2 separate regions of the Homo sapiens genome follow, and region 1 is linked to region 2. Evidence: fine-mapped expression QTL. A gene starts in region 2. The other region holds a variant in brackets. All regions are shown on one strand. Distances are between the middles of the regions.

What was found.
Region 1: its variant is fine-mapped to the expression of KIAA0232 in whole blood (INTERVAL, PIP 0.98).

Annotation. Positions count from the first base shown.
Region 1 is chr4:6,881,053-6,884,067 of GRCh38, forward strand. KIAA0232 reads left to right here. Exons shown (of 10, transcript NM_014743.3): 10 at 1-3,015. Among named protein-coding and RNA genes, the nearest start is that of TBC1D14, 27 kb to the right of the region's middle. The variant GGT/G (reference allele first, on the strand shown) is at 1,573.
Region 2 is chr4:6,781,720-6,784,219 of GRCh38, forward strand. KIAA0232 reads left to right here and starts at 1,008. Exons shown (of 10, transcript NM_014743.3): 1 at 1,008-1,122. RefSeq lists silencers at 388-1,267, 1,328-2,097.

The DNA of each region.
Region 1 (3,015 bases), 100 kb after region 2:
ACTTAGGTTTCCTCTTCAATTAACTGATTCAGATTGGTAATAATTATCTTTCTCTTCTTGCTTATTTTAGAGTTGAGGACAGCTATCCTGTTAAAGATTTTTTTTCCCAGCTGTTAAATTCTTGGCTATTTGAAATAGACTAGATTGTGTTGTCAAATCAAGAATGGGTGTGCATGTGCTTGTCTTAGAAGTATCACTGCTTTTTGCATCTTAACTGCAGTTAATTTTCCTTCCGACTGCGGTTATATCACTATGACCTTACTAGCATTGCAGTGTCAACAACCACTTCTGCTCTTCAGAGACTTCAGCTTTGGAGCATTTAGGCTTTGTTCTCCAAGAACTGGGATATCCATTCTTACCCTACAGTGGCTTGATGCCTTTCTGAAGGCGAGAGGGAAGCCTGGGTGACTCAGCGGTGGTCTCCATTCAGCAAAATCTCATGTACATTTCCAGTAGGAACCGCAGAGGTGTGCTTTTCAAGACTCACCAAATACTGTGTTTTCTCTCTTAGGATTTCTTTTCCCCTAAAGTATCACGGAAGATACTATGGTTCGTGACTTTCTTGCTAACTGAAGAAGCCAAGGATTTGGGGTGTGGGGTCGTATGCGAGACACAGTGGGGTAAGGGTGCATACCCCACCCCTTACCTGCTCTCATACTGCAGTTACATTTACACCAAAACCCCATGCAGGGTTCTTTGTGGTGAGTGTTCCATACGTGCTAAGGACCTTAGTTACAGATTGTTACTTTCTGGTGACCTATGTTGAATTGAAACCCCCAAAACTTGAAATTGTGAACATTTGACATGCAGTAAAGGCCACCTCATCACCCAGAGAAATCTTTGGCTGCTGCAGCTAGCCGCTTCTTGGCTGTGATGTAGTATAGCTTCGATCTCATTTTGTGTTTGAGAGAATGTTCTGGGCAAGTTCTGTGTGTGGTGGGTTGGGGCGGGTAGAGTCATGAGTTTTCCACATCCCTGTGTGGTGGTTTTGCTGACTGTCGCTCCGTGGGACTGGCTCCCGTTTCTCCTTGGTGAGCCCGGGGAGCCGGCGCATCTTGTGAGTCGCGTCTGTGCATGGCGATCCGCTCCTCCGGCTCTCATGGCATTGTGCCACAGGCAGAGGCCAGGAGGAGCAGTATGTGCACAGCCGAAACATTTTACATTTTTTACATTGTTTTTCTTTTTTAACCAACTCATTGTTTAAAAAACAAAAACAAAAAAAACCTAATCTGTGAAATCAGCGTAGCATGCCTGGAGCATCAGGAATGGCAGAAAAGTCTGATGCGCTCTAGACAGCTTCACCACTCATTTGGGCAGGCAGTAAACACACATATAATTTATTAGCTGGGAGCTGAACTGGCTGTGAAATCTATGATTTGCTTTGAACATTTGGGTTTTGTTGCCTTTTTCTTAATTGATAACACAGAAAAGAAAGTACCATCAAAGACTGTGGAGTCATTGAGGGTCTGTGTGTCCTCACCGAGAGGGACCTGGTGTGCCCGCCGGGTCGATCTTCCCACGTGTTAGGGTTTATTTTTATACAACACATTTTTTGACACTTTAAGGTGGGTG[GGT/G]GTGTGTGTGTGTGTGTGTGTGCGCGCGTGCGCGCGCGCATGTGTAAGGTTTTATGTTGCTGTTATTTATTTACGAACTTCAGATACGTTTTTATGTATTTTTCATTCTTCTGGAGCTTCCTAAAAATTGATAAGCATCTGCACTGAAATATAATTTAACAGCAAAAGTAAAAAAGGATTGAAAGTTGTAAATTCCTCATATCACTACAGTGACGATTATTCTAGAAATCGTTGCTTGTGTAGCAAAGACCAAATAAATAGATTTCAGACACAACCTTGAGCACAGTTGATTTTGGACAGCTGCTGTTTATTAGGAAAGGGCTCCAGGTGGCAAAGGTGCACACTTCCTCAGACACAGGTGAGAAGATGCAGCACCTTCCACAGGTGAATGGGACGGATTCGAAGTGAGCAAAGGGATTCACAAATTATGTATTTATTTGTTTTCATAGTTAAGTAGCTGAAGCTCAGAGGCTTTCAGCAACAGAGATGAAAGTGTGGCTTTTTAGTTTTGTGAATGGATGATCACAAAGAAAAAGCATTTTTAAAAAGTTGGCAAACGCTGAAACGCACTGTGGTATGAAGCGCATTGCATTTCCATAGCACTGAAGTACCAGTTTCCATTCCTGGGCTGAGATTGTTTTTCCCGTGGTTGTATTGTTCTGATTTCACGTACACCAGAGTAACTGATTTTTTTTTGTTTGTTTTCTTGTGGAGTTAACACCAAATAAAAATTGTAAAAAACAGTTTGTTGTTTTTATTTCTCATAGCAAAGCTTCTTTTGTAAAGAACTCCAGCTTCCTTTTACTCATGAGCATCCGTGGAAGAGCAAGTGCCCAGGTTACATTTGTTCTAGATGGAGGTCATTTAGCTCTCATTGCAGACACTGCTGAAAACATTGTGCAGCTTTGCTAGGGAAGAAAGTGGTGTGGCCTGCTGAGAAATCAGCGGCTCCTCCCCATCTCACCCCCAGCACACGCAGGGACTACTACCTGAGTCTGCAAAACACATAGCATTTTTGTCCGTGGATGGTACACAAAGCTCAATCTTTTTGTTTTCTTCTGGGGAAAAAATTAAATCTTTATATGTTAATATGATTGATATTCATTGTGCAAAAAAAATCAGTGTGTTTTTAAAGAAGTATAAGGGAAAAGGAAAACTCATATGTCCTTCTGTCACTCTGAGACATACACTGGTAACATCTGTGCAAGCCCCTTTCCAGGATTCTGAATGTACAGTATATATGAATGCATACACAGAGAAATTTACATTCAAGAGTGTACTATACTTGTTCTTCTATAACATCAGAAATAGGTTTTTACTCAGATGTCTTCATGTCGGTAATTATAGAACTACATAATTATTTTTATAGCTGTATTATGTAGATTTAACAGGTTCCTCATTGATAAAACAATGTTTTTTTGGTTGTTTATTCAGTATCTGA
Region 2 (2,500 bases):
CTCCCACAAGCCCGTGAGCTGGTGCAGGAAATTCTCCAACAGGTTCTGAACAGAAAAGCATAGTGCCTGGCACCTAGTGGGTGCTGCATAAATGAACAAATGACCCCAGGTAAGTCACTCCTCCCATTGGACCTCTTTCTTCTAAGTAATCTCCCTTCCTTTTCCAGGTCCATGATACTTATTTGCTTTTTTAGAACAGGCCTAGGAGTCACATTTAGGGAAGGTAGGTGGCTGTGAAGACACTTTGATTAAAAGGTTAATGCACATTTTTGGTTTCCACTTTCGAAGCTTCCAGAATTTATTTTTGCCTAGTTAATAAAAAAAGAGCCATGTCACATTTCTTTAGCTTGTCTTCTGGGTTCCTTAACAACAACAACAAAAAATTAAAGTCTTTATTTTAAGCCGCCTACTCCAGCCATCCCAGGACGCGGCGAGGAGGGGGCGCGGACAGGTGGCGCGCGAGCCCGGGAAGGCGGGGGCTGCACCGGGCCGCGGGCGGGGCCGTGCACGCCGAGCCCCACTTCCCCAGCGCGGGCCGGGGGCGGGGCGCGGCGGCAGAGTTCGGGGGCTTCTGCCGAGGGCAGTCCCACGTGCCCCTCCGCGGGAGACGTCTCCTCTCCGACGCCCAGCACGCTGGGGGGCTCCCGCTTCCTGCCTGCCCTCTCTACTGCTTGCCCTCTCACCTCCCAGCGGCTTCCGCCGCCCCGGCCAAGCTGCACGGCGCGTCCCGGGCCCTAGACCCCCACCCGCCAGGCACCAGCCCCGGCCTGTCCCCTCGCGCCGTCAGCCCGCGGCCCACCGCCCGCGCGCGCCCGCAGCCCAGCCGGAGGGAGGGGCAGGGGCGGGGACCGGCCGGCGCTGATGTAATCCCGGCACCCGGGCGGAAGGATATGGAGCGCGCCCCTGGTTGGCGGGGCGCTGAGGCCAGTTGCCGGGTAACGGAGCGGAGCGGCTCCCGGCGCGCCGCCTCCCGCCCTCCGCGGAGTGGCGCTGGGGCCGCCGCCGCCGCTTTACGTAAGGCGCAGGCCAGGGCCGCCCGGCGCTCGGCAGCCGCCCGCAGCCCCTCGGAGCCAGAGGAGAGGCGCCCCCGCCGGCCGCCGCGCCGCCCGGCAGCCTCGGCAGGTACTGCGGGCAGGCGGCGGGGAGGGAGGGCGCGGAGCAGCCCCTCGGCCGGGTGGGCGCGGGCCGGGGAGGCCGGACGCTCGCCGCCGTGGGGCTCCGGGGCCAGCCCGAGGGAGGCCGGGCCGCAGCCGAAGGCTTCGGGGTCAGCCCAAGGGAGACAGGGCCGCCGCCGTGGGCTCTGGGGCCAGCCTAAGGGAGGCCGAGCCGCCGCCGAGGGCTCCGGGGCCAGCCTGAGGGAGACCGGGCCGCCGCCGGGGGCTCCGGGGCCAGCCTGAGGGAGGCCGGGCCGCCGCTGATGGCTCCGGGGCCAGCCTAAGGGAGACCGGGCCGCTGTTGATGGCTCCGGGGCCAGCCGAGGGAGGCCTGACCGGCCCCGATCCTGGTGGTGCCCGGGCGTGCGGGTGAGCTGTGGGCCCTGGGACCCCCGCCCCGACCCCAGGACGCCGGGACACCAGCTTGCGGCTCTTGCGCCCGGGTGGGCTGTGGACGATGAGTCCGCACAATGGGTTGCCGTTGGCTGCCTCCTGCCTGGGGCAGGTGTCGCCGCGCCGGGGCGGCTCTTCTAGGGGAGACGAGGCGGGGGTGCTTAGACTTGATAGGACGTAGAGCCCCGAAAGTGGGCGCGGGAGGAAGGCTTCGGCCGGTGGGAGGCGCCCGGCGTCCCCGGCAGCGGGGTCAGGCCGGCAGCCTGGGCCGCTCGCTCGCGTTCCCTCCGTTCCCCTCCCCTCCAGCATTGTCCTTTTGGGGCCCCGGGAAGGGAAAACCGCCGGGCGGGGGAGGAGGGCCGCAGGCGGGCGGGGCCGGGAGGCCGGCTGAGCGACTGGCGCGCCGGCCTATGGCGCGGGGCGCGGCGCGGGGGGCGGGCCTGGCGGGCGGGGCCGGTGCGGCGCAAGGTTTGGCGAAGGTTACAGCTGGAGCTAGGAGTGACAGGCCCACAGTCATCCGTGCGCTGCGCGGCAAACCCTGTCGCGAGGGCGCCCCGAGTTGCTGCGGGGCCTGATCCGGCTCCTTTCCAACAATACGCGTCTGCAGCCGGCATTTCTAGAGCTCTCTGCTTCTTCCCGCTGGAGAAACCAGTGTGTGTCGTGTTGGAATGCTTCGTCTTGCCCTAGAATTCAGCTTGCGTCTTGTGGTGCGCAGGTGACAGGACCTGCCGAACTCTTGGTACAGACCCCTAAATCATGGCAGAACTGTCTTGATTTCTTTTTTGCCACCTTTCCGTTTTTGTCCTCTATAGGCAAGCTATAAAGATTTAACCCAGTTAAAAACAGGAGGGAGATTCAGCGGAGAGGAGGCATGCGAGATTCTTTGGAAAAAATTATATAAATGTAGTTCTTGCTAATAATTACCTGGGTTGGATACTTTGACTTACTGTTCA